3 linked regions of the Homo sapiens genome follow. The protein of the gene in region 1 interacts with the protein of each later gene in a pairwise test. Each region holds a gene or a part of one and is shown in the gene's direction. Other genes may lie near its edges. The genes, in order: KRT76, IPO11 and LCA5L.

The links.
Region 2: the proteins of KRT76 (region 1) and IPO11 interact in binary tests that used the Homo sapiens proteins (3 or more experiments, as listed by UniProt).
Region 3: the proteins of KRT76 (region 1) and LCA5L interact in binary tests that used the Homo sapiens proteins (3 or more experiments, as listed by UniProt).

What each region holds. Positions count from the first base shown.
Region 1 is NC_000012.12:52,765,068-52,775,959, reverse strand, and holds the end of KRT76 (keratin, type II cytoskeletal 2 oral), read left to right. Parts: intron 1-357; coding exon 358-572; intron 573-2,317; coding exon 2,318-2,378; intron 2,379-3,081; coding exon 3,082-3,177; intron 3,178-3,701; coding exon 3,702-3,866; intron 3,867-3,963; coding exon 3,964-4,089; intron 4,090-4,740; coding exon 4,741-4,961; intron 4,962-6,376; coding exon 6,377-6,411; intron 6,412-6,849; coding exon 6,850-7,247; 3' UTR 7,248-7,805; downstream 7,806-10,892. UniProt on the Homo sapiens protein: Probably contributes to terminal cornification.
Region 2 is NC_000005.10:62,484,456-62,495,656, forward strand, and holds part of IPO11 (importin-11), read left to right. Parts: intron 1-963; coding exon 964-1,007; intron 1,008-3,315; coding exon 3,316-3,406; intron 3,407-4,846; coding exon 4,847-4,894; intron 4,895-5,659; coding exon 5,660-5,765; intron 5,766-9,542; coding exon 9,543-9,669; intron 9,670-11,201. UniProt on the Homo sapiens protein: Functions in nuclear protein import as nuclear transport receptor. Serves as receptor for nuclear localization signals (NLS) in cargo substrates.
Region 3 is NC_000021.9:39,432,683-39,443,883, reverse strand, and holds part of LCA5L (lebercilin-like protein), read left to right. Parts: intron 1-4,110; exon of another isoform or gene 4,111-4,250; intron 4,251-5,165; exon of another isoform or gene 5,166-5,200; intron 5,201-7,716; exon of another isoform or gene 7,717-7,787; intron 7,788-8,310; 5' UTR 8,311-8,464; intron 8,465-11,201.

The sequences.
Region 1 (10,892 bases):
CAGGACAGTCCTGGGTTTGATTCTTAGCTTTGTCACTCAGTAGACTTGTCACTTTGGGAAACTTAAACTCTTTGAGTCTCAGTTTCCTTATCTACAAAATGGGGATCACAGCAACTCCTTTATAGGTGGTTGTGAGGATTAAATGTGACGGAAATACATGAAAATAACAGGTAAGGCATAATCACTCAACAAATTCTAGCTCTCCCTTTGCTAAATCTTCATCCTTCCCAAATTAAAAAACAGGGGAAATTGTAGATTGAAGAACTGGGTTCCTTCTCCACAGTTCTACATTTGGGATGGGCAGCCCCACATGCCCAACTCAAGGGGCTGACTCCTTTTCTCCCCTCTTTCATGCAGGTGCGGTTCCTGGAACAGCAGAACAAGGTCCTGGAGACCAAGTGGGAACTGCTCCAGCAGCAGACCACAGGCTCAGGGCCCAGCAGCCTGGAGCCTTGTTTTGAATCCTACATCAGCTTCCTATGCAAGCAGCTAGATTCACTTCTAGGGGAGAGGGGGAACCTGGAGGGAGAGCTGAAAAGCATGCAGGACCTGGTGGAAGACTTCAAAAAGAAGTGAGGGCTCCTCCTGGGAAGTTTCCCCTTCTGGGGAATTAGCAGGGAGGTGTGGTCCTAATTTGGGATTTCAACTGTTCCCAACTGTGCCTTCAGTCAATACTCTGGGATGGATTTATTGAGTGAAACATGACAAAGCAGAAGGGGGTGAAAGGGTGGGGACTGAGACTCCCATGTGGCTATGACACAGATTTCAGGCTCCAGATGGGCCCCCTCCTATTCCAGCCCAGAGGGACAAAAGAGTCCTCCCAGAGTTTAGAATCCTTTAGGATGGGGAGTCCGCCACACTTGACTGGACACAGGAATCACCTTGGATGCTTGTCAACAATGCGTATTCCTGTATTCCAGTCTTAGGTATTCTGAATCATAGGTGTGGACAGGCCCCAGGAGTGTGAGTGTTCCCCTAGCTCCTGGGGATTCTAGGCAGAGGTCCAGGGCTGCACTTGGTAAAGGCCTTTATCAGTGTGTCCCGTCCAATCTCCTGTTCTGCAGCTTTGGTTTGCCTCCTCCTCCACGTTCCAAGTTGCAGTCCATATCCGCTGAGGTCTGCAAGGAGCAAACTGGGCCTCTCAAGGTGGGAGGGAGCTCCCGACTTCCCCAGGGATCAGAACCCACAGGGACGGGCACACCTGCTCTGCAGAGGCCCTATTCCAATTCAACCACACAAACGTGGTGGGCACCCACTCTGTGGCAGGCTCTGTGCTGGGCTCTGGGAATTCAGTGGCAACTCAGATTCATATTCCCAAAAGAGATCCCAGAGACCTCTTTTCTCCTAGAGGAAAAAAAGAGGTCCTGCCTAGAGACCTCTTTTCTCCTAGAATCAGTCCAATTCCTCAAGCTTTATGAAATACAAACTCTTGGTAGTAGATTTTAGTCCTTAACAGGCAGGAATCCCACAACTTTGATGCATTCAGAAGGTATGAATTCTTTCTTAACTGAAATTCCTATAAGAAGTAACTGTAATGAAGGAAAACAGAAACTGAGGAAATAGGCAGAAATGCCCAATGAGAGCACACATTTCACTGGGTTCCATATGCACACATTGTGCTTTGCAAAGTCAATCAAAGAGCCTAGGCAAGTGGTCAGGCTCCTTGAAGTTTGCCCTCTCACTGACTGCCCATACCTCTGCCCATCACTGCATTTAGAGGGAAGAGGGCCAGGCAGTGCCCTGAGCTCTGAGAGGTCTCTGGACAGGACCAGCTACGTGATTTTCAGGCCTCAGTGCAAAATGATAATGCAGGAACCTAGTTACAAAATTATTAAGAATTTCAATCATGCCTGTAATCCCAGTACTTTGGGAGGCTGAGGAGGGAGAATCACTTGAGCCCAACAGTTCGAGACCAGCCTGGGCAACAAAGTGAGACCTTGTCTCTACTAAAAATTAAAAAATTGGCTGGACGTGGTGGTGCATGCCTCCAGTCCCAGCTATTTGGGAGTCTGAGGCAGGAGGATTGCTTGAGCCTGAGGGGTTGAGGCCACAGTGAGCCATGTTTGTGCCACTGCACTCCAGCCTAGGTGACAGGGTGAAACCTTGTCTCAGAAAAAAAAAAAAAAAAGAAAGAATGTCAATATGGTGCCAGCATTGAGCTAAGTGTGAGGACCCTGAGCCCAGGGTCCTGTGTAACTGCACGTGCCCATGAAGCTCGTCCTGTCTCTGCGCAGGTGAGGAGAGTGCCTGGAATCCTCACCTCTCTTTTTTACTTCTGAAATGCCAGTGTTCAAATGTGTGCCTCTTCTTGTTCCAGGTATGAAGATGAAATCAACAAACGCACTGCCGCAGAGAATGAGTTTGTGGGGCTCAAGAAGGTAGGTGAGCCTGGACCAGCATATCCAGGTTTCCTTTCTGGGAGCTGCCCCCATGGAGAGAGTGCACAGCCAGCTGTTCTGGGGCACAGGGACCTTATATTGTGTGTGGGATTGACACTTTTCCTTACATTTTTGGAAATGAAATGTTTCATGAAGGAAGCTGCTCTAAGTATATTACCATGGAAAGGTATGTTAAAATGTTACTGTGACTAATGAGCTGATTAGCAATGCGAACTAATAATGAGCCCTTTATGTGTAAGATTAATCAAGATTTTCAGCCTGCAAATGTACTCCAGATGCTATTAATAACAATCAACAAATACTTGTAGCATATTTAAACCAGTCATCGTAAAAGTGAAGTAGTGAGAATACCCTAATTTCTGTTCAGGAGGGTGGGATTTCTGGTACTATACAACCAAAGTCACATACATATTAGGTAAATATGATTTTTCTACCCTAAAATCAGATGGTTACTCTGTGCCTTATGGTTTGTATTTTGTTAAAGTATTGGGGCTTGATATGTCAAGCAAGGAAAAGGAAGAAAGCCATTTTGATCTTCCTTATTTTAAAAGGGAAGATGAGAAGTCACAATTAGGAGGAGAGCTGGGGGCGGAACAAAGACGAGACATGAGGGCTTAGGAAAGAGCCACTGGGTGGGAGGGGAACAGAGGGTCATTCTCTGGGTTTCTGACCTCCTCTGCAGGATGTGGATGCGGCTTTCATGAACAAGGTGGAGCTGCAGGCCAAAGTGGACAGCCTGACAGATGAAGTCAGCTTCCTGAGGACCCTCTATGAGATGGTGATTCCTTGGTTTGCAAGCTGCAGAACCTTCCTGTCTGATTCTTCCCAAGCATAACTTTAGGGGACAGCCAAACAGCACAACACTCACAAAACCAGCAATGGGGCTCAGGACTCAGCTCCACCCCACCTGGGAAATGTTAACTGAGCTTCTTCAGTCTGCATAGACCTGGCCCACAGGTCCTCAGGCCATTTTGCTCTGCACCTTCTCTCTGGCTTCTATACCCATGTCATAGTTGGCTTCTTCATAATACTCCTCCCTGCTGGGGGCCCATGGAAACTTACACAATAAGACTCATTGGCTGATACTTTCAGGCTGATAGCCTAATTATATTGCATATTTTGCATATTTCCTTTAGCCTTGTTGTCTAACATCCTTTAGGCTGTAGCCAGGCCTAAAATGTGAGCTTATTTTTCCAACTGATCCACCTCTAGCCCCATCCTTGGGATATCTCCGCTAGTAGAGGATTCCCAGCATCCCCTGGTCCAGGCGATGGTAAGAGTAACTATCCATGTTTCCTGCAGGAGCTGTCCCAGATGCAAAGCCATGCCAGTGACACGTCTGTGGTTCTGTCCATGGACAACAACCGCTGCCTGGACCTGGGCAGCATCATTGCCGAGGTCCGCGCCCAGTATGAGGAGATTGCCCAGAGGAGCAAGTCTGAAGCTGAGGCCCTGTACCAGACCAAGGTGGGAACCCTCCCTGTGTCCTTGGATCCTGATGACCTTCATTGAGAATGTGCCAACACTTTGCAAAAGCCACGTTGATTGGTTTTTCCTCTGTCAGCTTGGGGAGCTGCAGACCACAGCTGGCAGGCATGGGGATGACCTGAGGAACACCAAGAGTGAGATCATGGAGCTCAACAGGATGATCCAGAGGCTACGGGCTGAGATTGAAAATGTCAAGAAGCAGGTGGGGCTGGGTTTAACGGAGAGATCCCAGAGGTCTTCTGGGCCCCGGAGAGAAGCAGCATAAGCTCTGCTCCTCTGCTACATGCTCTCTCCATCCTTTCATGGTGTCACATGTGGGATAGCGCAGTGTCTGGGAAACTCTGTTCTCCCAGATGTTTTTGTTGGAGGTTGAACTTCTTGGAAAGCTCACTCAAGAAAGATGTTTGTTTATTCTAGTTTGCCTAACAAATCTTGCAACTGCAGTTCTGGACTTAAACACTCAGATGTCAGCAGGATCTGCCCTTAGTGAAGCTGTTTCTCACACCTTTCACATAACCTTGATGGCTGCTCTGTATCATTGGAATGAAGTGATTAGGCAAGAGAGTTTTTAACAGTCTTGCAAAAAAGATTAGGGACTAACCAGACCACTACTACCTGTAACAGCATAGGAAAGCAAATTAGTGCTCCCTTTCTTGATGAGCCGCAAGTTGATTTCAATGGGACAAAGATGAATTAACCAACTGCAAAACTGACTTCTTTTCTCTGAGCATGCTCCATTGGGATTTCTAAGGAAAGGGAGGAAGGGATGCAGGATGTGGGGGAAGAGATCTACTCCTAGTAAGGATCAAGTGTTTGTTTCCGGGTCACTATGCTAATTGATTTTCTACCTCAGAATGCCAACCTGCAGACGGCAATTGCAGAGGCTGAGCAGCGTGGAGAGATGGCCCTCAAGGACGCCAATGCCAAGCTCCAAGACTTGCAGACTGCCCTACAGAAGGCTAAGGATGACCTGGCTCGGCTCCTGCGTGACTACCAGGAGCTGATGAACGTCAAGCTGGCCCTGGATGTGGAGATTGCCACCTACCGCAAGCTGCTGGAGGGAGAGGAGTGCAGGTGAGGGGCCATGGGATCACCATTCTCCAGATATGGTTTTAGAGTGACCTTTGATAATGTGGAAAGGGGGCAAGATGATAAGGAGAGGAACACTAAGACAAAGGGCAAGGAGTGTCTTGAATGACAGAGTCAAGGGTTCAAGCCCCACTATTTTATGTCCATCAAGATCATCCAACTCTCAAATGTTTAATGGACATCAATATCATGTTACATATCTCTATTGATCTTCACTATGTGCAATGTATGAGGAAAGTTCTTTGGCATTATGACAAGTGATAGACCAGTGCTGTCCACTGGAACTTTTTGAGATGATGAAAATTTTCTATTCTTGTGCTGTCCAATACAGTAGCCACTGGCCACTTGAGCCCTGGAAATGTGGCTAGTGCAACCGAGAAACACAGTTTTACATTTAATTTAATTTTAATTAACTTAAATAGCATCATGTGGCTACTGGCTACCATACTGGAAAGCTCAATATAGACAGTCCTACAAGCTCCACCCCTGAAGCTGAGTCCATATGGGGAGACGGTTGATACATCCATGCTCTTGGAAAATAATACAGCATTAAGCAGCAGATAAAGTCTTAGCAAGTGTTTATCAAATGCTAAAGGAGTGTCAAGAATTGAGAGATCTTTCTGCTGAGTTTCTGCCCAATGCATCATGTGCTCAGGGAGTAGCTAACCCTCTGTCCTTGGGTAGCTCCCAATCTGATGGAGGAAGCAGAACCCAAGTATGAGAAGGAAAGTGAGAGTGAAGGTGATGTCAAGTGTACTAGGAGTCATGGGATGAGGAGGGAATGGTCAACACCAGTGGGCACACATTGGCAAGATATGCAGACCCAATCCATATCTTCTCAGATATGTGGATGTGCCTGCTCCATTAACAAGAATAAGACACAGGAAGATGGACAGTGTAGGTGGTACATTTCAAATCCATCCTGCATTGAGTTTCAGCCCCTCCCATATTTTCTCCACCCTGAACAACCCCAATCATGTCACCACCACCCCAGGAGGGCCCATTGTGGAAGCCTTCTTGGAAAGGCAGAATTGGAAATAAAAAATCCAGGGCTGGGTAGAGAAGAATGAAAGGGCATGCTAAGGTGGGAAGATGGTCTTAGCAGGGGATGAGAAGTGGGGACAGGCCAATCAAGGCAGAGCTGGGCATCAAGTAGTTTGCCTAGAGAAGATAATCTCTAAGGGCTAAGGGGAAAAGTGTGGGAATTCTCAACTCTTGAAGCAGCCCCCTTTTCTGGGGAGATATGGTCATGGAAACAGACTTGGAATAGGCTTTCTTCTTGCAGGAGCTTGACCCCTAGTGGGGCAAATGGGAGGGCGTGGCTCCCAAAGTTGTGAACTCTCAACTCTTTGGTTATTGACTCATAACAGAAAGAATTCACCTCTCCTCTTCCTTTTCAGGATGTCTGGAGAATGTCAGAGTGCCGTGTGCATTTGTAAGTAGCCCATTCAAAAAACCCTCTCCCTGGGTTGTAAAAGGGCAGCTAGAAACAACCTCACTGACTGACCTTCAGGCAAGAAGGCCTGTTCCATCCAAGGAAGTCAGGCCACCTGACAGCGTCTAGGATCTCAGGCCATGGCCACATGCTCTGCCCCTAGTGTAAGCTGACAACCTCTCAGGCCAAAGCTAAAGCCCCTCTGGTTTGGGGAGTGGCCTAGGTTGGAAAACCAGAAATTTCTGTAGATTTCTGGTTCCTGTTCTTGGGAGAAGGCACTAGAGGCCAGGCTCACTCTCATGGTTTGCAAACTGAGGCATTAGATAAGTTAGCATCTTTCTCGAAGTCACATGGCCAAGCAGGGTGGGGATGTAATACAGTCCTTGGCTTCCAGTTTCCCAGGCCCTTTGCCTGAATTGTGTGCCTGTTGTCTTGTAGCAGTGGTCAGCAATGTCACCAGCACAAGTGGCAGCTCTGGCAGTAGCCGTGGAGTTTTTGGAGGGGTCAGTGGCAGTGGCAGTGGTGGCTACAAAGGCGGCAGCAGCAGCAGCAGCAGCAGTGGCTATGGAGTCAGTGGCGGCAGCGGCAGTGGCTATGGAGGGGTCAGCAGTGGCAGCACTGGGGGCAGGGGTAGCAGCGGGAGCTACCAGAGCAGCAGTAGTGGGAGCAGGCTCGGCGGTGCAGGTAGCATCTCCGTGAGCCACAGTGGAATGGGCTCCAGCTCTGGCAGCATCCAGACTTCTGGAGGAAGTGGCTACAAGTCTGGTGGTGGAGGCAGCACCAGTATCCGCTTCTCCCAGACCACGAGCTCAAGCCAGCATAGCTCCACCAAGTGATCTACTGTTCCAAATCTCTATAACCACCTGCTTCCCACTCAGCCTGCAATAGTGTTTCCCACTCTCTGCTTGGCATCAATAGATGCATAAGGGTCAACCACATTTTTCCTCAAGTTCCCTGGAGAAGAAGCTGAACTCCTGGTTTCTCCATCCCCATGACCTTCCCAGGGCCATGGAGGTCCTGCTGCTGGTCTGGGATGATGATGCCCCTGGAAACCTTCCTGCAATGGCCCCTTACTTTGGACAGCAACCCCTGAGCCCAAGCCAGTTTTGGCCTTCACAGCCTGGCCTGTTCCCACTCTGGCCCATCTCCCTTTCTTACTGGGAGTTGGAGATTTGAAGCCAGTCATCTCAGCACTGTCTGAGGAGGGCAGAGCCATGGGTTCTGTGCTGGAGGGTGCACGGCCAAGATCTCCAGACTGCTGGTTCCCAGGGAACCCTCCCTACATCTGGGCTTCAGATCCTGACTCCCTTCTGTCCCCTAATTCCCTGAGCTGTAGATCCTCTGGTGATGAGTATGTTGCACTTTCTTTTCTCAATAAATTGCACTGAACTTCACATTCTGGTGTTGGTCTTTTATTCCAGGAGTCACAGAATAGATCACGACCCAAAAGTGATGAGAAATCAGGTGGGGGTGATGGTCTTCCAGGAATTTAAAAGTGGGTATAAAGGCCACTGAATAGTCTTGGCTTCTCCACCTATTTGGTTAGGTTCCCGTGATAGGTCTGCCCAGGAGTATGTTGTTTAGGGGAAACCTTCCCCACTCCCAAGAAAGTCATCCCATCCTTCCTCCAGCCTCTGAGCAGGCCTCTGCAATTCAGTCTTGGAAGAAGTGAGTTCTGCAGTTCATCAAGGAAACAGATTCCACTGGGACTTCAGTTCCTTTGTTCCATCCCCATCCCAGCCAGACACAGAAGCAATCCTCTTTCTGCAAACACAGCTCTTGGAATCTGAAGGGGTCAATACATAACATCTTTTCCTTGCATAGGTTCTGAGCCAATTAAAAAATAAGACAAATGAATGAGCAGATGGAGGGTCAATATTGCCTTTATTACCAAGAAAGCAGATACTGGAGCGTGTGTCTTTTTACCTCGGATGGAAAGGGTTTCTCCTATCACAGGACCTCAGGATTAGGCCAGATTTTCCACCTGGGCAGGGGCAGCCTAGGGCCACTGTGGCCTTCCCTATGGGGTCAGATCCCTCATAGTCGAGGGAGAGAACAAGAGAGCAGAATATAATCTTACTGTGGACAGCCAGATCCTAAGAGATGGAGGGGCATTGCTCTGCAAACTCAACTCTTCCTTCCAAACTCATTGATCAGGTAAGAGAGTGGGTGGGAGTGTTAAACTAGTAAAACTCACTCCAGATGGATGTAAAATTAGGAACAGGGATGATGTGTGCCTGCCCTCACACCAGCGTTTACCAGCCATTCTCAGAAAGCTGAAACCCAAACCCAGGGGGCACAGGGGTAATGAGACAGTCACTGAGAGAAACCAGGAAAATTGGGGGCCTCAGGGAGATGACATTTAGGATCTGTGATTTTTCCCCACCCTGTCCCCCAACCAATGCCCTCTGCATGCCATTAATCATGGCAAAATACTAGTTTGTAAGTCACTGTAGACCATGTGTTACTGCCCATAAGACAGGTCAGGGATGGAATAACAAGAGGGCATCTGTACATTTGTCTGATGTCCAAGGGGAGTGCCAGGGCCTGGTCTCCGTATTTCTGAGTCTTAGCTCAGCCCATCTAATCTCTAAAGTACAGTAGCCCTGGCCTCAAGAATTGGAGAAGAGGGCATTTTAAAGTTCCTATACCTGAATGATCAATAAATCCTTGCCCATCTTTTCATGGCTCACAAGCCGGAGGTAGTGCCCTTTCCACTTTCCCTTGGCCTAGCTCTGGGTACTTTGAGCAGGGGCAGGCAGTTCTGAATTGCTGCTCTTACTGGCCTTTTAAGAGACGCTGCAAGAAACATAATCGGTTGTCTCCCCAACTCCCCACAGGAAAACACCCTGGGAGCTCTGCTCCATGTGTTGCTTAACTTAATGGGAAGAGGCTGACTGTCTTGAGTCAACACAACTTCTCATAAGACAGAAGCAGCAGGGTTTAGAGACATCTGCTTCAGTCTCTTTATCCATCTGCTCCATGTGTGTTGATAGCTGGGTCCTGGGTACTAATCTCAGGGCCCTGCCTAGCAGGTGGGGAACTGAGTGAAAGTTTGGTGGTCAATTGAAAGGATGAATAGAGATGAATAAGGAGAGTGGGCCCCGCATCCCCTTAGCCTGAATGGAAGATGAGATAGGTCACACTCCAAGGTAGGACAGAGTGAAAAGTTTACAGTGAGGGCCTAGGAACCTCTTTTGAACTCTTGTGAGGAGGAATGGTGGAGGGGGCTACCAAGGAAGGTAATGAAAGACTTAAGGATACCTAGAATTAAAGGAAGGGGCCTATTTAGAAAGGCACATTGTAGAAGAAGCCTGGAGCAGGCCTGGGAAGGAAAGAGACTCTGGGCAATATGGAGGAAGGGCAAGGGGTCAGGGCTCAGCTATCCAGACCAAATCCCAGGAGAACTCCAGGACTAGTATCATCTTCCATGTTCTTGACACAGTGGCACTAAATCATGTGCCAGTGGAGCACATGGTGAAGCTCCAGGGTGAAGGCATCATGTCTGAGGCCAGGATAGGGGCTGGGGAGAATAGAACATTTTTAAGACTGTGGGAGACTGGCAATCTTGGGCTGTCTCAGCCTTGCAGAATCCCTCAATCCATCGCCCATCTGAAGGCAGAACTGGGGCAGCTCTTTGCATTTGAAGGCAGCCAGGGTAAGTAGAGTAGACATTTACCTGTGTGGAATGGTCAAAAGGGTGACAGGAGCCCTTTGGAATTGATACTTGAAATCCTACCAGTTGCCTTTAGAATTAAACAATCTGTCTCCTAGTGGCAACTACTTTGTTGTTTTCCATCCTTTATTCTTTACCCTTTACTCTTCTCCCTCTCCTTCTAGATATCTTTTACTAAATTATAAAAGCAACACACATTTATAGCAAAAAATGCATAAAGTTTTAGCAAATTAAAAGAAGATTAAGATCATCTATGATTCTACCATCCTGACATTTTCCTACATTCATGCATGTGCATGCTTACACACATATTCATAGAAATATATAGAATATTTTACAATGGGGTCTTAACAATACATTCTGCTTTTTAACTTGATTTTTCACGTAATGTACTGTGGAATTTATCCATTTAGTTATTCAACAACTATTAATAGACTGAATGCCTACCATTTTCTAGCTACTGTGCCAGGCCCAAGGATACAGGGGAGAACACATATAGTTTCTGCCCTCACAGAATTTATAATCTAGCTGATAAGAAATTTACCAAATAGCATCTTTCCACAACAGCAAATGTAGAAGGAGATCATAATTTTCTTTTTCAGTGCAGATTCTTATTTTTACTTAAAAAACAAAATCAAAGGTACACATTAGGAACTATAAACAATTATGTGTTTTTCTTCTTTCTAGAGGTGTGACATACATGTTTTCTAGTCAGTAATGTCCTACCAAACATTTTACTAACAGGAAGCCAGACAGATGACCTTTGGTACCTCTGAAGCCTTTTGCTGCTTTCTCTTACTCAGGC
Region 2 (11,201 bases), on another chromosome or scaffold:
TCTTACCCTGTCAGTTTCTATTTTGTGATTCATTCCATGTTATTTTTTATTTGTAGAAATTCTTGCAAAGAAATTTGGAGGTTTTTGATGAATAGTTTTTTTTTTTTTTTTGGACAGGACATCTTTATATCTGTTTGAATTTTAGTACTAGATAGATAAGTAGAATAAGTCTGTTGGGACCCTTGCTATAGAAAATCAAGGAATCATGTGTCTAATAAAGTACTTACTTGTATGTGAATTACTTAAGCTATGGTGGGACATAGGCTAGATTTTAGCCTCCCTTTTCTCTTTGGTTGTGTACCCTTGTGTAGTTACACGTTTCCTAATATTTTAAGAGTGCCCAAAAGTTTTTGTAATACTTATCTTCGCCATGCTTTTGGTTTTTAAAAGTAATTTTAGTTTTAATACAGGATTGTACTGTACAACATGTCTTTTCTTGTTTTTTTTTTTGCTTTTTTTGAAACATCTTTTTTCAATTTGCTTTCTTTATATAGTACATACAACATTGTAACATAAAGTGTTGAGTCCCTAAATTTTTAAGAGCCCTGAAGTATTTTTCTTTAAATTCAAGAAATTTATGGAGAGTGTGAGTAATCATTGTACCTAGTGAAACATGATTACTGTATTGAAATGAAATGATTCTCAGAATTCTAGTGATATTGGATCAGGTGATAGCAGATACCCTGGAAATGACAACTACTTTGAGCTTTTTTCCATAAAGAATTTTTATCGAAAATGAGAATGCTTATGGATATAGTAAGCACTTAATAGACGACTGTGAGATACACAACTGTGATCTGTAGCATATAGTAACAAAATCTGTGTAAGGCCTGTGTTCCCAAGGCTTTGCTCTTAATGTTATGTTTAAAAGAGTTCACAAAAATATTATACTGATGTTATTAAAATCTTTGTTTTCTAAACCAAGATGTTGAAAATGTCATTATTACATATTTTTAATTGCAGCAGTGGAAGAAACAGGAGGAGATTCTTGGAAATATAGTTTGAGGGTAAGTATTAATTGCAAGAAAAATTGATAGGGGAAAGCTTAATCTTTCTAAAGCTCTTAGTAGAGAATGACACTCTATTAAAGATTCCAGACATTTGCTGGGCATGGTGGCTCACACTTTAATCCTAGCACTTTGGGAAGCCAAGGTGGGAGGATCGCTTGAGGCCAGAAATTCAAGACCGGCCTGGTAAACATAGTGAGACCCTGTCTCTGCAAAAAGTAAAAAAAGGAAAAAAAAATTAGACCAGAGTGGTGGCGCATACCTGTAGTCCCAACTCTTCAGGAATCTGAGGCAGGAGGATTGTTTGAGCCCAGGAGGTTGAGGCTGCCGTGTGCCATGATGATGCCACTGCGTTCTAGCCTGGATTACAAAGCAAAACCCGTCTCTTAAAAAAAAAAAAAAAAAAATTAAAGATTCCCAACATTAAGTCAGACAGATAAGAAACTGTTTATAAGAAACTAAGAACTATATTCATATTAAATTATGACGTTTAATCTGAGTTTTTTTTCTTTTTTCTTTTTCTTTTTTTTTTTTTTTGAGACAGAATCTCACTCTGTTGCCCAGGCTGGAGTGCACTGGTGCATCTCGGCTCACTGCAAGCTCCGCCCCCTGGGTTCATGCCATTCTCCTGCCTCAGCCTCCCGAGTAGCTGGGAATACAGGCGCCCGCCACCACGCCCAGCTAATTTTTTGTTTATTTAGTAGAGACGGGGTTTCATCTTGTTAGCCAGGTTGGTCTCGATCTCCTGACCTCGTGAGCCACCCGCCTCGGCCTCCCTAAGTGCTGGGATTACAGGCGTGAGCCACTGTGCCTGGCCTTTTCTTTTGTTTAACTTGGGGTCGGAAAACAAATTTTTTCTTCATCTTTTAGTACATTGCTTGGGAAATAATTGTCATTACACAAATAGAAAATGTTTGTCAAACTGAAAGCTGCCATTCTTAAGCTAGAATTTTTTCCTTCTATATATTTCATTAGTAAAGTTTCTTTTGGTATGTTATTTCTCTTACCACTTCATGTGATTCTCAGAGACTAGCCCATTGCTTTCAGTTATAGGATACTTTTACAACGCATTTATTAATATGACAAATGTTTTGCCGTTACCAGATGTGATGTTTGAGCTCTTCTTTTTAAGATTTGCACTTACATAATTTACATAATTAGCTATTTGTCTTCTAAAAATGTTATCTTTAATGTTTTTAGATTCATAAACATACAGTTGTTAACCAGAGAGATTACTGGTGATTTTAAAACTTTAAAAAATTTCATTCCTTTAATTTTTAAAAGTTTCTTTTATGGAGAAGTTTAAACATATTAAAAAATAGAATAATATAATGAGCCCTTCATGATAAGCTAGTTTATTAGTTATCAACTCATGGCTACTTTAGCTTCCTGTAAACATCTCCCAGTGTTGATGGTTATCTGAGATGACACATCCTCTGACCATATTTCAGTGTGTATATTTATAATGTTCCTTTTAAAACACCACACAATACCTTAAAAATTTAATTAAAAAATTTAAATATTGTGAACGATCTAGTGATTAAATTCCTTTTTAAAATTTAAATAAAAAATTATTTTAAAAAATTTTTTGTGGGTACATAGTAGGTGTACATATTTATGGGGTACATGAGATGTTTTGATACCAGCATGCAATGTGAAATGATTCAGTACTTTTAAGAACCAAACAAATCATTTTTTTAAATGTAGCTAATGCTAATTTCTGTTACCGCTTGTGTTTGTTAAGAGAAAGGCTACTTTATTTGGCAAATTGGAGTTCCTGTTTTTGCTTATTATATCATTGCTAAGAAAATACATAATAGCTACTCGGGAGGCTGAAGCAGGGGAATCGCTTGAACCTGGGAGGTGGAGGTTGCAGTGAGCCGAAATCACACCACTGCACTCCAGCCTGGTGACAGAGTGAGACTGTGTCTCAAAAAAAAAAGAATCTTGGGTAGTCAGCCATTTATAGTACTGAGCTATAAATGAGTGGCTACAGAATGCTTTTTAAATTTAAGGTATGATTAATTTAAAATGTACACTTTGCTTGCCATAGTTTTAAGTTTTTGAATGCGTAATGACAAATAATTGAAATGAAATCAACTTTCTTTTATTAATTATAATTCGATTTTGTTTTCCTTTGTGTTGGTTATAAAAAAATGGTAACCTTACTTTTTTTTTTTAACAAATCAAAAGTTGGAAACATTTTCAAAGTTTTAGAATTTTAAGATTAAGTATTTGCTTTATTAAAGAATTAGTCAATATAGTATGCAACTGTTTTGATGAGAAATTTGTATTTTTCCCTCTCCAGCCATGCACTGAAGTATTATTTATAGATATATTCCATGAATATAATCAGACTCTTACTCCTGTACTTCTAGAAATGATGCAAACACTTCAAGGTAAGGCATATTTTGTGATTAACTTTGAGTTAATCTCTTTAACGTTTAGTTAAGAAATAGTCTGAGTGCCTACAATGCATACTGTACTGTTTCCTGGGTCATATAATAAATATGAATTTGAGAAAAACAATTTTAAAACTTATTATCTTCCAAGGGGGTGGCATTTGAGATAGGCCTTGAATTATAGTTTGGACGATGATAAATTTTCCTGTAGTAAATACAATAGAAGCAAAAGCAAAACAGTAGTCATACTGCTTGCAGAAAGTCTATCTGGAGCGTGTTGTGAGAAATAGTGAGAAAAGGTTAAAATAGTGTTAGCCTCTCTTAGAATGGTGGCAGTGGGAATGGAAATAATTGATTATGGATTTGAGAGAAAATGATGATGTAAATTTTTGACACTTGGTCATTACACTTTGTACACAAGTAACTAATTATCTGCCTATTAACTAACATTGATTTATGATTTCTGTCTTTTCTGCTAGACTGTAAGTCCTAGGGGCATTGATCACGTCTGTTTTGTTTATATTTTATTCCCAGTGCTGGGCATATTCAGTAACTATTGTTACTTGATTGACTTTTAGCAACCGATTGAATGTGCTAGGCAAGGAAAAGTGATCAAAGATGATCCTAAACTTTTGAGCCTTAATGACAAGGAAACAGTTACCTCATTAGAAGTGGTAGGAGATAGAGATATACTTTCGGAGTGCATGTATGTAAGGAGCCTTGGGAAAAGAAAAGAGGATCTTAAGGACAGAACCTGAGATTTTCACCTATAGGGATATGAGTAAATAAAAGCCTTGTAAAAATGCCAGGTGTAGTGGTGTATCCTAGAGAAGAGCATGTTGTCAGAATGAGTGTTGGCCAGGCATGGTGACTCACGCCTGTAATTCCAGCACTTTGGGAGGCTGAGGTGGGCAGATCACTTGAGCCCAGGAGTCCCAGACCAGCCTGGACAACATGGCAAAAACCTGTCGCTACAAAAATTAGGAAAATTAGCTGGGCCTGGTGGTTAGTACCTGTAGTCCTAGCTATTCAGAAGGCTGAGGTTGGAGGATCATTTGAGCGCAGGAGGATGAGGCTGCAGTGAACTGAGAAAACCTCACTCCACTGTACTCCAGCCTGGGTGACAAAGCAAGACCTTGTCTCAAAAAAAATAATTTTGTGGTATATAGCACATTAGCATTTTGTGGTGTATATTTTCTAGAATATTGCTTGTCATAACATTTTTCAAATATGCTATAATGGTTTTTAATCCTGTGTTCTCTAATGATAATCATAAAACTTAGACTTTCCCTTTGTACTTGTGTCCATTTTTGACACCATGAAATGTGTTATACTTAATTGAATTGGGAAACTAACAAATTGTGTTTAAATATAAATTTTTTAAAAAACTAGTTTTATTTGCTTTTACTGATACCTATTTATATATATATTTTTTAGGACCCACAAATGTGGAAGATATGAATGCACTGTTAATCAAAGATGCTGGTATGTTAAACTTAAGTGATTTAGAAGCATTTATTTATTCAGTAGATGGAGAGTCTGTTTTGTGGTAGATTTTGTGCTGAGGGTGTTGAGATACAAGAGTAACTAAAATACAGGAACAATCTGATTGGGGAGATAACCAAGTAAACAGATAATGTATTATAATAATACTATACAGGATAGTTAATGCTAAAGTAGGTGATGATCACCAGATAGTTTGGTGTGTCTAAGGAAAGATTCCCAAAGAAGTGTAATGGAAGAACACAAGGATAAGTAGGAGTTACACGTGTGAGGAGGTGGTGATGGAAAGAGGGTGTTGCATTCCAGGGAGATGGAGCAATAAGTACAAAGACTTGAAGGAAAGAGGAGGAAGCACAGTTAGAATTTGAATTGTGACTATTTTGGTTTAACTGGAACATTGGGGTTAAAGGTTGAGTTGAGGCTGGAGAGAGTTAAGTAGGGACCAGATCATAAAATATTACATCCATTTTAGAAGCAGGCATTATTTTATAATTTTTATAGTTGGACTTAAATATTTTAGAATGAATTGAATTATCTGTTTGAAAGTAGTAAGGAATATTTAGGAAAAACATGAAGTAAAATAGTGTTTCTAAAATAAATTATTTCTTCTACTTAAATTATTTCTACTTAAATAATTTCCCTGATTAGCATATTGTGTGTTTCCTTTAATTAACATATGTTTCATACACTCATTTGCAGATCTGATATCTGAAACCTTTAATTTTTTTTCTTAAATTTTCTTCTCAGTGTATAATGCTGTTGGATTAGCTGCTTATGAGCTCTTTGACAGTGTTGATTTTGATCAGTGGTTTAAAAACCAGCTTCTTCCAGAATTACAAGTCATTCACAATAGGCAAGTATAAAATTTTATATTTATTATACACTTACTTTACCTTATTTATTTTATTAATGAAGACAGGAAGGCATTAAAATGGCTTACAATTTAAAAAATGCAATCGTATAAGTTAGGTAATGTCTTATGTGGAAAGGAATAAGAATTTTGACATCTAGGAAGTATTTGATATATCAGGTAGTTTGCAGGAGAAAAGGAGGACTTTATGCAAAGATGAGGGAGGATGGAGGTCTCTGAGTTCAAGAAACTATGCCTAAGAAAAAGACAGTTCGAAACTTAGCAGGATGTATGCCTAGTGTCAGAAGTAGCCTAATCAAAGTAACATCTGTGAAAGATGAATGTCTTGGGATCACATAATGCATACTGCAAGTCTCTGGGGAGACGGTAGAGTAGGATATAGAGACATCATGGCAAAAATATTTGAATACCCTTTCTAAGTTCTAATTGAGGTACCTAATTAAATAGTACAGATTCATATTACATTTAGTAATATGAATTATGAAATGAATTAATTTAGTACATTTAATAGCACATTTGCCCAATTCTATTTTTTTTGAAATAGTCTCATTTTGTCACCCAGCCTGGAGTGCAGTGGTGCAATCTCAGCTCACTGCAACCTCCACCTCCCAGGTCCAAGCGATTCTTGTGCCTCAGTCTCCTGAGTAGCAGGGATTACAGGCGCATGCCACCACACCTGGCCAGCCCAATTCTTACGTTTTATATACATTTAAGCACTTGTCTACTTAAATTTTAGGTATTGAATGCATAAAATGAAAGGAAAAACCTCTTTCATAGTTTATAAAATTATTTCTTAGTTTAAAATTGGAGAATTTGAAAAAATTCTAAGGGGCTTTTTTCTTAATTTGAAGGATACACTTCTACTGATTCACTTCAGTATACCTGGGGCCTATCAGAATACTTAGCATATAGTCATAGATAGTTAATATTTGTTGACTAAACTAATGAATGCATAGGTCACATTTAGAGCCACAGAATTTGTAGAGCTGGAGATACTCTAAAAGTAATTCTTAACAGTAAGTAGCTGTTTATCTCTTCAGTTATTCAATCATTTATTCAGTTAACATATATTTTTAACACTTGGAATTTGCCATGTCCTATAGGCGGTGTTAAATAAAATAGACTCTGACTTAGTCTCAGGGAGCTAGTGAGCCTTTGATGGAGAGAAAGCTTTCATTGGCGAAACAAATGTGCAGTTTAGTTGTCCTTAAACCCTAGAGGCTATTTAGTGTAAGACCTTCACTGTCCAGTGCAGAAGCTCCCTACGTGTAGCTATTGAGCACTTGAAATGTGCTTAGTGCAACTGAGGCAACAACTTTCCAATTTTAATTAATTTAAATTTAAAATTTAAAGCCATGTAAAATATTTATTGATTACATGTTGAAATGATATTTTGGATATATTGGGATATGTAAAAATATTAATAAGTTTTTTTTTTTTTTTTTGAGATGGAGTCTTGCTCTGTTGCCCAGGCTGTAGTGCAGTGGCGCGATCTCGACTCACTGCAAGCTCTGCCTCCCGGGTTCATGCCGTTCTCCTGCCTCAGCCTCCCCAGTAGCTGGGACTACAGGTGCCCGCCACCATGCCCGGCTAATTTTTTTGTATTTTTTTTTAGTAGAGACGAGGTTTCACTGTGTTAGCCAGGATGATCTCGATCTCCTGACCTCGTGATCTGCCCGCCTTGGCCTCCCAAAGAATAAGATTTTGTTTCTTTTCTCTTATAATGTGGGTACTAAAAAATTAAAATAACATATGTGGCCTGCATTATATTTCTAATGGACAAAGCTGATGTAGACCAGTGTTTCTCAAACTTTAATGTACATATGAGTCACCTGGTAATCTTGTTAAAGTTTAGGTTTTGACTTAGTAGGTCTGGGAAAAATCAAGCAATGCACACATTAAATAGCAAAGTGATCTATACTTTTACTTCTGTTTGGATGTGTCTATGAGTTTGGAATTTTACCTTTCTGAGTTTCATATTCTTTATCTGGAACAGAGTCTAATATGGTCTTAGTCCCAAAATTGATGGTTCTTTGGTGCTTTTACCTCACTCTACACAAGTTGTTACTTCTGCCTCTGTCACTTGGTTCAAACAGTTTCTGTCCCTTGAAATGACATTTTTCCACCCTTTGGCTCCAATATTGTTTATCTCAAAGACTTGCTCAGATTCCGTCTGTCTCTGCCCATTTCTTCTCTTCCTTTTCTAAAGTCCTAGTACACTACTTTGTGTTTTTAAATTCCTTTAGGTGTGTTATAAACTTCTTGGGGGCAGGGAATACTTACATACTTTTTTTTGTAACTTTATTTATGTTATTTAATTTTTGAGATGGGGTCTCACTTTGTCACCCAGGCTAGAGTGCAGTGCCATGATGTTGGCCCACTGCAATCTCTGCTTCCTGGGCTCAAGTGATCCTCCCACCTCTGCCTCCTGAGCAGCTGGGACCACGATGTGTGCCACCATGCCCAGCTATTTTTGTGTAGTTTTGGTAGGGTTTTATCATATTGGCCAGGCTGGTCTCAAACTCCTGAGCTCAAGCCATCTGCCCACCTCAGCCTCCCAAATGCTGGGATTACAGGTGTAAGCCACTGCACCCGGCCCAGTTTTTGCAACTTTAATGAGCAGTTTTTTCCTGTGTGCTTGATCATCTTTTAAAATTGCAATTTTTTGGGAAAAAAAAAAGTGTTTCATTTATACCCAGAAATATTTATCATCTTGCCACTAAAATTTACATAATATCAAAAAGGTACTTCATGAGTGAAATTCTTGGACACAAATGTTTTGAACTGCATGATTTTTCTCCTTACCTGAACTTTGATTTCTTTTAGCGAAGATGATGAGAGAAAGAAAGAAATGTATATATGTGCTACTGTAAATGTTTTGCCAGTGTTAATATATGTTATTTTGGTAATCTGAGTCACATTCTGTTATTGTGTACCTCTTACAAAATTAGCTTAGTTGAAATCACAAAATTTATATGAAAGTTTTATATAAGCCTAGAAGTTTCTTACATTGTTCTGAAAATAATCTTCATAGTATTAACAGAATTGGAGTAGAAAATTACATACAGGAGCTTCTTTATTATTATTTTTGGGGACCTTTCCAGTTTTAGAGTTTGGGGCATTGCCACTGTTTTTGGTTACTTGAGCTAAAACCAAATGGATTTGGTTTTTATGAAACATACCTACATTGCGGTTCTTTAAGATAAAAGAGTCAGGATTACAACATATATGCCTAGGAATTTTTAAGTACTAAAAGTTTTAATAATATTTATTTAGATCAAGACTTCATTGTTAATATTTTGTACTGTGGTACATTTAGAAGTAGGCTTTAAGCTTTTTTTTTTTTTTGACAGAGCCTTGATCTGTTGCCTAGGCTGGAGTGCAGTGGCACAATCTTGGCTTATTGCCAACCTCTGTCTCTTGGGTTTCAAGGGATTCTCATGCCTCAGACTTCCAAGAAGCTGGGACCACAGGTGCATGCCACCACGCCCTGCTAATTTTTGTATTTTTAGTAGAGATGGGGTTTCACCATGTTGCCCAGATTGGTCTTCAACTCCTGGCCTCAAGTGATTTGCCCTCCTTGGCATTCCAAAGTGCTGCGATTATAAGCATGAGCCAGCACACCTGCTTTTAAGCTTTTATATTAAAAATGCAGATTGCATTCTTACTACATTTTAGATTTAAATGATAAATTATACTAAAAGAAATAGACCTCTTAAAATATTTAACATTTTAATTTCATGATTTTTTCCTGTTTAGGTATAAGCCATTGCGACGCAGGGTGATTTGGCTCATCGGTCAGTGGATTTCTGTGAAATTCAAGTCTGACTTAAGACCCATGCTTTATGAAGCAATCTGTAACTTGCTTCAAGATCAAGATTTAGTGGTATGTTTCTTAAGTGCCTTAAAAGAGTTAGTTTTTAAAGTTTCATCTGTGCAAATCATCAAGTTCACAACAGTTTATGTCTTTTCTTTATGATGTTTATGGCCTTTCACTGCACTAGTTATTCCTTGGTGAGCAGTTTGATTTGAGGGTAGAAAATCTTTTGATTCTTGTTTGCCCTTCCCATTACTAGTCATTGAAAAAAAAATTAAGCTCTACTATTATAAAGTAATTTATAATTTCTTAGAAAAAAAGGCAGTTTTAAAAAATCCCTTTATAGCTTACATATTCTTTTTAAAAATCAGGATAGACTTTGGCATTGAAATAGCATCATAATTTATTTCATCTTTACTGTTGATTCTTTGTCCCTCATTTTGAGAATTTTTTTTAAGCCTTTGGAATTATTGGGCTCTTTTAAGGAATTTTTCTTTCTTTATGGTATTCATATATTATTGTTGATTTTGTTACTGAGAACTTGATAGTAAGCTCTTCATTGCTTTTTCCCCCTTCAAAGCAGTAGGTTTGCTGCTTTATTATAAAATTACTGAAATAGTAGTAGTAATTTTACAGGCGTATGATTTTAAGAAGTTTAAATTGTAAAGAATAGTTTTCTTTCTTTTTTCCTACTGGTGCTTTACTGTATGCCTGGGTGAATATATTAGTGACTTAATATACATGTTCGCTGTCTTTTCCTGATTTTCAATTTGTTTTAGGTAAAATTAAGTGATTTTTTTTTTCTCCCCTGAGTTGTGCTAAGATCTTTTTTAATCATTTCTCAGTCTCCCTCCCTTTACCCCCCCAAATTTTATTTTTAGTTTGAACCCACCTGGTTTTTGCCTGTCAGCAGAGGTTTGGACTGTACTTCCCTTTTTTACATATGCTGACATAAAGAAAGCTACATGTAGTGTTCACTAAAGGAAAGCTTAAATAGGTGAATTTGTTACAGAAACACAATACATTCCAAAGGCAAATAGAACTGATCTTTGGATTTTCTACCTAAGTATTATCTGCTTTGTGTAAATAATTTGAGAATTTAAGTACCATTCTGTAATTATTAAATACTATAAGCATGGGAAGTTACAAGAGAGCCTTGTGGTATTTTACTGGGTTTACATTCTTAGAAATTTATTAATATAACTTAGCTACTTCTAAAATTTCTATTTGCTAAAATTAATTTTCTTCTGTAATAACTTTAGAATAAAGCATAAGATTTAAATTTTTGCTTTCCTAGTTGGAAATATTTGCCCTTCTGTCAAAGAGAAGATATTAAATGATTTATGGATGTGTTACAAAAGGGTTAAATTTCAATTAAGTTTTCTTTGGGAAATAGAGAAATTGCTTGGAGTTTTTCTTTTTTCTGTTTTGTTTTGGGAGACTGAGTCTCTCTTTTTTGCCTCGGTTGCAGTGCAGTGATACTATCACGGCTCATTGTAGCCTCAATGTCCTGGGCTTAGCTGATCCTCCCACCTCAGCCTCCCAGGTATCTGGGACTATATGCACCACAACGCCTGGCTGATTTTTCTGTTTTTTGTAGA
Region 3 (11,201 bases), on another chromosome or scaffold:
TTTTGTATTTTTAGTAGAGATGGGGTTTCACCATGTTGGCCAGGCTGGTCTCAAACTCCTGACCTCAGGTAATCTGCCTGCCTCGGCCTTCCAAAGTGCTGGGATTAAAGGCGTGAGCCACTGCGCCCGGCCCTACCCTTGCCACTCTCTTAAACTCCTAGCCCCATCTTTTCTCTTTTGCCATCAGGTAAAACCCCAATTAACCAAAGTAACAGAGTAGGATTGCCACGGTTAGCTGAGGGTCTGTAGGAGATTGCATTTCATAAATGACCATTTTCCTCAGATTTGATCTCCCACCACGCCCTTGTGCTGTCACTTCATAGAGAAGCTTGAAGCTGTCACATGGGAATCCCCTCATTCTTCAGCTCCCAAAACTGCAAGCCTTACTTATATCTGTTCCTACCTTCCTTCCTCCTCCTAACCAAGGCCACTCCCTCTCCGTGCTTTGGATCCCATCGCTTTCCACTCGCCAAAAACTCTACCCTGTCAGGTATACATTCCCTCTCCTGTATGATCACCTGTTCCATCTCAGCTGGCTCTTTGCCATGGTTTTGAAGCATGTTCAAGTCTCCCATCACAAAAGAGAAAAAAAGAATCTTCTTTGACCCCACGTTCCCCTTCAGTTTCCAGTTATTGTCCAATCCCTTATCCCTTTCGACAGGCAAACTTTAAAGAACTGCCATATTCAATGCCTCTATTATTTGTCTCTCACTCCTCAGCCAGTATGGCTTCCCTCTTCATCTCTGCTAAAACAAAAACCAGGAATGAGACTTTTTCAGGCTTTGTCTTGCTCAATCTCTCAGCGGCATCTGAAACTGCTGCCCCCATTTCACTCTACAAACACTGTCTTCCCTTGGCTTCTGTGACCATCCCTGACTCTTCTGCTTTTCCTGCTGCCATTCTGGCTCACCCTCCTCTCCCAGGCTCCTTAATATTGGAGATTCTCAAAGCTCGGCATCTGTTCCCATTTTATTCTCCATTGCGCCCCTTCATCTAGCACAAGGCACAGATTCACACGCACAGCTTTTAAGTTCCAGCCCTGTGCTCTTGACTCCTACCTTTCTCCAACTTGACCCTTTCTCAGCTAGACTCGTACGTTCAGCTAGCTGCGTGACAGTGTTTCTTAATACCACTCAGTCTCCTCCAATTCAACATGCACAAAACCAAACAACCCCACTTCCCAACCCCAGCTGGAACCTCTTCCGTTGTACCTAGGATTCCTCCTTGACCCTTATCACACCCCAACACCCAGTGAATCCTTAAGCCCAGGTGAGGTTGTCTCCTGGGCATCTTTCACATCTCTTCATTGTCGTGGACACCCAAGTGCAAACCACCACCTTCATTCAGCCTGCCGCAGTCCTGTACCAGCTTGTCTCCCCACATTCCCTCTGGCTTTTCTCGATTCTTCACCCTGCAGCCAGAGTAACCTTCAGAAGGCAGAGCTGATTATGCCACCCCTCCCGCCTCCCTCTTTTGCCTACAGTTAGCTTCCCATTGCCCTTGGATTAATGATCCACATCATAAACACGCCTTCCGAAGGCCCTGCAGCTGTTCACCCCCGCCTGCGTCTCAAGACTCATCTGAAACCGCTGGCCCTTCTCACTGGGCTTCAGCCACATGGGCCTCCTCCACCCACCAGGCCTTGGCATTCTTTCCTCTCTGTCTGCATTGTTTTTCCCTCCTCCCTCTCATCCTCTCTTGCCTAATTAGTTCCCACTGACCCTTCCTATCTCAACTCAGACAGTACTTCTACAGGGATAACTTCCCTGATCGCTGTCAGGATCAGGTTTCTTTATCTTCACAGAGTTGTATCTCCTTCCTTGAAGACACTCTGGACAGTCACTATTATGATTAGTTCATTACTGACATAAGGCCCACAAAAATAGAAACATTTGCTGTTTGTGTTCATCATTGTATCTCCACACCCCACATAGTGCCTGGCACATAGTAAGCACTCAAATGGGTGCTGAAAGAATGAATGAAATGAACATTCTAATATGTAAGAGATACTAAGCGCCGTGTGTTTTAATACAATTCTATTAAAATAGAATGAAAATCTAGTAAAAATAATCAGGCAAACACTGAAAATTAAAAAGAATGTTGTGTCAGGGTAGCTAAAAACGGGTACTTGTGTAAAGATTTGTAGCCCTTTACTCAGTGCAGTACATTGCACTTGCCACCACTTGGTGGAAGTAGAGAGGCACGGGTTCTTATCCTGAAGGTGACTAGGGTGTCAGTCGGGTAGTGAATTCAAACATTTGTTCTAAAATATATAAAGTTGTTAAATTACCAAAACCTACATAGCATAGCTAGTCTGTAACCATCCAAACTTTGAACGTGGCACATTTTCATGTTATCAAATAAACTTGAAATTGCTTATATATATAGGTATATTTCATTTATGGATTTTAGTGCTAGACTGGACCTTATATGTCACTGAGAAATCACCTAATTTCTTGCCTTAGACATTTGAGGCCTAATAGCTAGTTGTATTGGCAGAACTGGGAACATACCTTTTTTCTTCCACAGTATACTGCCTCTCAATCAGTGTTTTGTTCGTTTGGTTTTTTTTGGTTTTGAAACAGGGTCCCACTCCATCCCTCAGGCTGGAATGTAGTTGTGCGATCACAGCTCACTGCATCACTGCGGCCTTGACTTCCTGGGCTCAGCCTCCTGAGTGGCTGGGACTGTCACACCCGGCTAATTTTTTTTTAGGAACAGGGTCTCACCATGTTGCCCAGGCTGCTCTCAAACTCCCGGGCCCAAGTGATCTGCCCACCTCAGCCTCCCAAAGTGCTGGGATTACAGGTGTGAGCCACCACGCCAGGCCAATCAGTGTTAAGAATCATAACCTCCCTTTGTCAATGTTTAGAGTGACTCGCAAAATTTCTGAAGCAAAAAATTGGGACACATAAAAGTAGATAAAGTGTTTGAAATAATGTTCTTGAAAACCGTAAGATATTGATTATCTTAGCTATATAATACCACATTTATAAGCTTAGAGAAGAGCTTTTCTGTTCATTTAACATTTTTGTCAAAGAGTTTAGAGTTTAAGCCTTTCATTCAATAGGAAGACCCTGAACTTGGGTCTGGCTGATGTTTTTTTCTAACCAGACAGGCTGTGCTTGTGGCAGAAAGACCACAGAAGTGGTGCTGTGATCTTCTCAAGTGCCCATGGACACTAGTGAATGTCACCTGTCCCACCCTGGTGACATGAACCTTGATTACCTGTTCAAGCACAAATCTGCCAGTTTTCTCCACAGCCACCTGTTTTCCCTTTGCATTTGATTAGTGCTTTGGGAAGAGATACTCTGACGTGGTAAATCCCATTTTGTTTTGTTTTTTTTTGAGACAGGGTCTCACTCTTGTCCGGGCTGGAGTGCAGTGTTGGCATGATCAAATTCACTGCAGCCTCAGCCTCCCAAGTAGCTGGGACCATAGGTGTGTACCACCACACCCAGCTAATTTGTTTTGTTTTGTTTTTTATAGAGATGGCATCTCCCTGTGTTGCTCAGGCTGATGTATCCTCCTTATTGGTATTGATGTTCAAATTGCCCTATCTTTGACTAGTGGGAGCTTCTTAAAGCTGGCTCCTGTGCCCTTTTGATACACACCAGCCTTTCTTCTCTTTGCCTGCCTCAGGCTTAGGATCATCCATTTCTCCAAGGAACCCCAATTCATTATAGCAGAGAATGGTATTTAGTGGAGAATGGTACACAGTGTACTCATTGTTTCTGGGGTGTCGTTGATTCTAGGCCCTCTCAGCAGAGTTAGGGGAAAAATACACGCACACATATACATACATATGTATATACACATACACATACATTTATAGATATATATGCACATAGATCTGTAACTGTATATAACTCCTTGTGTGTGTATGTGTGTGTATTTGAACCTAGCATTTCTCATTCTAATCCAACATTTCAGGGTTCTTTCCAGCCTTCCCTCTTTCAGACAGTAAGAAATTTGACCCCATGATTCTAAATATATTTACTTATGTCCTCAGTTAATTTGTTAGCTCTAATTAATTTCCTAACTTTGCCAGCTACCTGACGCCTCTTTGTCACTCCTCCCCCTTACAACTACTTCACTCTGCTTTCTCAGCCTTCAGCCATGCTTCTGCCACTGCCTCTGCAGGAAAGCCACCTGCTTTAAAAAAAAGTCTTCATGGAGTGCTTATGAGAGGGTCGGCTGTTTTCTCCAGCTCATTTTTCCAAAGCAAACAATCCCACCAGCTATCTCAGGTTGGTCATCTTGTTCCTAGATATAGTCCAAGGCAAGGTAAAGCAAGCTGGTTTCTGGAACAATTAAGATATTTCCCCAAAACGTTTGAACTCACCATCTTCTCTGACTTCTTGAAATTTATAACAGTGCAATTCATTTGCATTTAATAGCCTGCTTTTAGTCTCATTTTAATTTGTGATGTTTTTCAAGGTACCTGTATTAGTTCTGTATTGCTGCTATAACAAATTACCACAAACTCAGTGGCTTCAAACAAATTTATTTTCTTACAGCTCTGGAGGTCAGAAGTCTGAAATGAGTCTTAAGGGGCTAAAGTTAGGATGTCAGCAGGACTGATTCCTTCTAGAGGATCCAAGGGAGGATCATTCCCTTCCCTTTTCTAACTTCTAGAAAAGCCTGTATTCTGTGGCATGTGACCCCTTCTTCCATCTTGAAAGCCAGCAGCGTCGTGTCTTCTCCCTCTGACTCTGCTTCTGTGATCACAGAGCCTTCTCACTCTGACCCCTCCTGTGTCCTTCTTAGACAGGCCCATGTGATTACATTAGGTCCACATGGATAATCTGGGATAACTCAAGATAATCTTCCCACCTCAAGACCTGAAACTGATCACATCTGCAAAGTCCCTTTTGCTATATATAGTAACACAGGTTCTAGGGATTAGGACATGGACATCCTTAGGGGACCATTATTCAGCCTACCACTGTACCAAATGAAAGTCTTAAATCTTAAAAATGAGAATTTAACTCTATTTTACATGTAGACATTGATTGGAAAATGAACGTATCTTAGAGAACTTTACATATCTACACATACACAGATATGCTTTATTTTTTATAATATGCATTATCAGTATTCATCACAGTTATAATAACAATAATATGTTTTATCTGATTCTTTAATTTTTGCCATTCTGGTAGATGAAAAGCGGAATCTAATTTGCATTTCATTATGAGTAAGTTCGAACATCTTTTTATATAACTCTTGGTTTTCTGTGTTTCTGTAATGTGTTTATGCTGTAATGCATTCATATCTTTTGCCCATTTTACTAATGGATTATTTTAAGAGGTCTCTGCAAATTAAGGAAATTAGGTCTTTGTCATATGTATTGAAAATCTTTTTTCCAGTTTGTAAGATGCCTTTGAACTTTATTATTTTTTTAATTATAAGGAAGTTTTATATTTTTATGCAGTTATTTTTATCAGTTGTTTCCTTTATGGTTCTAGGCTTTATGTTTTTCCACACTCTGTGTTTTCTTTTAATAATTTTTTAAACATTTACATTTTGAACCCATCTAACCGTCATTTTAGTGTAAGAAATGCAATAAGAATCTGCTTTTGTTTTGATTTCCAGGTAGATTCTAGCCTACCTCTCATCATTTACTGAAGTCCACTTTCTCTACCTTTATCTTAGACTAGGTTACCATATGTATTTGTTTGTGTTTCTGTTTCTGAACTCTTTATTCCAGAATATTGTTCTGTCAAAGCATTAGTATCAGGCTATTTTAGTGACTGTAGTTTTCTATCTCAGTATCTGATCAAAGTAGTCCCTTCTCATCATTTTTGTTCATATTTCTTTGTATTCTTTCATATTTATTTCTCTATGTGAATTTTGTATCGTTTGGTCAAATTTCACAAAATTACTCAGTATTTCATTGAGAATACATTGATCATGTAGATTAAATTAGGGAGAATTTACAGCTTTATAATCTGTGTCCTTTTGATATAAGAACAAAATGTGTCCTTCACTTAAATATTTTATTTCAGTAGTTTTAAAGTTTCCTTCATATTATTCGTAGTAAACTTAGATGTTTTAAATATTTGGATATAGTAAGTGGGGTATGTTTCATCTATTTTCTAAGTCGTTTTATTTTGCATAGAGGAAAGATTATTTTTAGGGCCAGGCACACCTATAATTCCAGCACTTTGGGAGGCCAAAGTGGGCAGATTTCTTGAGCCAAGGAGTTTGAGACTAGCCTGGGCAACATGGTGAAATCCCATCTCTACAAAAACTTGGCCAGGCATGGTGGCACGTGCCTGTAGTCCCAGCTACCCGGGAGACTGAGGTGGGAGGATCACCTGAACCCAGGAGGTTGAGGCTGCAGTGAGCTGTGATCACGCTACTGCACTCCAGTCTGGGCAGTGGAGTGAGACCCTGTCTCAAAAAAAAGATTAATTTTATAGCCATTTTGTAACCTATGGTGTCAATTTAATTCTCTTGATAGTGTTTTATAAGTATATAATCATTTCATTTCATTTCCACATAATAACTTGCCTCTTCTTTTCCAATATTTAGACCTAGTACCTCCAGAACAATATTAATGAACAACAGTGATAGTAGGCATTTCTTATCTTAATTCTTACATCAGTGTAAATTAATGTTTCACCATTAAGCTTAAAGCTGTTTTTTTGTTTGAGATAGGTATTTATCACATTGGGAAAGCTTTCATTTGGAGCTTTTCAGATTGGGTTAGCAGTAATGAGAAGTTTTTTCAGGAGTAATGGATATGAAGAGAGGAATTAAGCACAGAGGCATCCGGAACATTAATTTATTTGATCAATATTTATTGGACACTTAATATTCTCAGGAACTCCTCTAGGCACTGAGGATATAGCAATAGACAAAGGAGCCAGAATGCATGCCTTGTGAAGCATGCAGTTAGTGGGGAAGCCAGGCTACAAACAGGCTGAGGAAGTAAAATGGGTGTTAGGTTAGATAGTATGTGTTAAAGAGAAAAAATGAAATGGGGAAGGCAATAGGAAATGTTGAGAATGGATAAGAAAAGAGGGAAAATTTGCATGCTGAGTAAGTTTTTTTTCCCAAGAGGCAGGACTGGTTAAGAATATAATTACTGGCCGGGTGCTGTGGCCCGGATCATGCCTGTAATCCCAGCACTTTGGGAGGCCAAGGCAGGTGGATCACTTGAGTCTAGGAGTTCTAGACCAGCCTGGGCAACATAGTAAAATCCCGTCTCTGCAAAAATAAAAAAATTAGTTGGGCATGGTGACACATGCCTGTAGTCCCAGCTACTTGAAAAGCTGAGGCAGGAGGATCGCGTGAGCCCAGGAGGTCGAGACTGCAGTGAGCTGAGCTAACACCACTGCACTCCAGCCTGGATGACACAGTGAGACTCCATCTCAAAAAATATGTATGTAATTACCTACCCATAGAATAATTTCAGCCAGAAACACAGATGTAATCATTTGAATTAAATTATCCTTATGAATTAATTATAAATTTACTACTGAATTTTTTTCATTATATGCGTGTAACAAAATATTTACTTTTAAGAATTAGGATTTTCTAGTTGTATTATTAACCAAGAATCTGATAATTCATGAAAGTATGGAACCAGAATACATTTTAGTATATAATACTAAATCAGTCACTGTCTCTGCTTCTAAAATACAATCCAGTGCTTACAATTAGCTACCAAGAGGGTCGTCTTTTTGTTATTTTTATTGTTGACAGGCAAGAAACACATAATCCAAAAACTTTAATTATTTATGTTCAACTCTGTACTGGAAAGAAAGAGCAGGCAGGTGAGCCACAAGATCTTTTCTGCCAAAAACTTGAAAAGGCACTGCTGTGTATGGCTCCTTCAAATCTTACTTCAACATCACTGTTTGATAATCACATCCAAGAATTTCCCAATCAACTGCCAACAGGTGATTCACTTTCATAGAGAAAAAGCCGCCTGTGGCCAGGTGCAGTAGCTCACACCTGTAATCCCAGCACTTTGGGAGGCCAAGGTGAGTAGATCACTTGAGGTCAGGAGTTTGAGACCAGCCTGGCCAACATGGTAAAACCCCGTCTGTACTAAAAATACAAAAAAATTAGCCGGGCATGGTGGCGGGCGCCTGTAATCCCAGCTACTCAGGAGGCTGAGGCAGGAGAATTGCTTGAACCTGGGAGGCAGAGGTTGCAGTGAGCCAAGACCACACCAATCCATAATACAAGGGAATATATATATATTAATTAAAACTGCTTCAAAACCTTATTCTTATTACATAAATATGTTTCTTTGTGAGATTGTAACATTTTCCTTTTGTAATACCATTTTAGGTTTTTTAAAATATATTCTTTCTTTAAAAAGAGACCAAAACCTGTCAAAAAAATACTACCGTGGAAAGCTCATAAATACTACAGTGTGAAGAACCCTGTGCTTATCTTCAGTTTATCATCAGACATCTTAGGGAAGTTTAATAAAGAACACCAGGTATGCAGTAATCACTTTCAAACATTTTAGTGTGTTTTATTTTCCATCTGCCTTGTTGCAAAAGCAGGAGAAAAGACACCTGACCGTTGTATTCAGAATGATTCAGACATATACCTTGATCTTGAACATTCTTATTTCTAATTCACTAATTAGATAAGCATAATATAGAAGTTTACTGTTCTTTTAAGTAGCCATCCCTTTCACCATAGTGCATTCCGGGAAAACGTAACCTCAACCAGATCAGATTTTTTCCATTAGAATAGTGTTTATAATTACTCATTGTGTTCCCGAGTCATAACAGCAAAGAAACAACTATAAACTCCATAATGATAGAGACATAATAAAATTATGCTTCATGTGCAGTAAAATAGGCACCACTATACTGTAAACTGTTCAAAATATAAATGCTGCCAAACTAAATCTGAACTATACTGTAAATTTGATACAAAAACTAGTGTAACTATAGTAGATATTAATTTTATAATTACTAACTTTGCCTATTTTAAGATCCTTTTGCCTTACCTTCTTCATAACCCCAGACCCTGGAAGACACTAAATAAATGTTCTTTGACTGAACATATTAATTAATTAAGAACATCAGTGGCCGGACATGGTGGGTCATGCCTGTAATCCTAGCACTTTGAGAGGCTGAGATGGGAGGATTGCTTGAGCCTAGGAGTTCAAGACCAGCCTGGGCAACATAGTGAGACCCTATCTCTTCAAAAACTAAAAATATTAGCCAGGCATGGTGGTATGTGCCTGTAATCCCAGCTAAATGAAAGGCTGAGGTGGGAGAACTGCTTGAGCCTAGGAGGTCAAGCCTGCAGTGAGCTGTGATCACACCACTGCACTCCAGTCTAGGCAACAGAGTAAGACCCCGTCTCAAAAGAAAGAACAGTAGGTGGTTGGTTTAAGGCCTGGATTTTTCAAAAATGCACCACATAATCAGAAATTTGTATGTGGAAACTACACTTTTTATTGATAACAATAGAGAAGTGTAGTGTATGTATATTAATATGAAGATTTCTGAAATAGTTTAATCAACTTAAAAGTACAGTTATAGGCCTGATACTAGTCATCAGTCAATTTTTAACAGGTCAGTGAGAAAACTGGTATTTAGCAGACTGAATATATGATCCTACTTGATACCTGCATTCAGGACACATTCATTGCCAACTATAGTAATAGCCAAGAATCAAACTGGGTTTTACTTTTGTTTACATTGCTGATAATGTCTCTCAGTCGCCATTTCATGGAAAAGAATAGAACTCACACAGTGCCAGGTGAACCCAAACATACCTGTATTGAGGTCATATAGGTAGAAATTTTAGGATGGTTCTGGAGTCCTGGGAATTCCAGAATGCTAGGAATATCCTGTCTCTTTGATGAGTATAATTTATGTACAAGTAACTCTTTTGGAAATTTACCTACCCTGCCAAGGCAGGAGAATTGGCAAAACTCTGTCTCTACAAAAAAAAAAAAAAAAAAAAAAGCTGGATGTGGTGGCATGGACCTGTAGTCCAGCTACTTGGGAGGCTGAGGAGGGAGGATCACTTGAACCCAGGAGGTGGAGGTTGCAGTGAGCCAAGATCGTGCCACTGCACTCCAGCCTGGGCAATAGAAGAAGACCCTCTCTCAAAAAAAAAAAAAAAAAGCTACAGTAACCAAAATAGTGTGGTATTGGTATGAATATAGAGAAACAGATCAGTAGAACAGTATAGAGAGCACAGAAATAGATCAACATATGAATATCTGGGTTTTTACAAAGATGCAAAGGCAATTGAGTGGGAAAAGGATAGTCTTTGCAACAAACGGTGCTGAAGCAATTAGATGCCCATATACCAAAAAATGAATTTTAATCCATAATAAGTAACTCAAAATGGATTACAGATTTAAAGTAAAACTTCTAGAAGAAAGAAAGGAGGATATCTTTGTGACCTCAGGTCATGCAAAAATTTCTTAGATACAGCACCAAAAGGATCTTTTTTTTTTTTTTTTTTTTTTTGAGACAGAGTTTCTTGTCACCCAGGTTGGAGTACAATGGCGCAATCTCAGCTCACTGCAACCTCCACCTCCTGGGTTCAAGCAATTCTCCTGCCTCAGCCTCCCAAGTAGCTGGGATTATAGGCGCCCGCCACCACGCCCAGCTAATTTTCTTATTTTTTGGTAGAGATGGGGTTTAAATTTGTTGGCCAGGCTGGTCACGAACTCCTGACCTCAGGCAATCCGCCTGTCTTGGCCTCCCAAAGTGCTGGGATTACAGGCATGAGCCACCGTGCCCGGCCAGGATCATTCTTCAAAGAACAAATTGATAATTGGGCTTCACCAAAATTAACAGTCTGCTCTTTAAAAGACATTTTTAAGAGAATGAAAAATCACAGATGAGGAGAAAATGTTTGCAAAGCATATATCTGATAAAGGATTTATATCCAGAATATTCACAGCAATTTTATTTGTAATAGCCCAAAACTGGAAATAGCTGAAATGTCTGTGAACAGATGAATAAACAAATTATGGTTTATACATACAATTGGAAACTACTCAGCAACTTAAAAACAAAACAAATGAACTACTGATATTGATGCACATAGTAACATGGATGAATCTCATAATAATAATGCTGAGTGAAAGAAGCCAACCAAATAAAAATACATACTGGATTATTCCATTTATATAAAACTCTATAAAATGCAAAATAATTGATAGTGACAAAAAAACAGGGTTTGCCTGGGTTGGG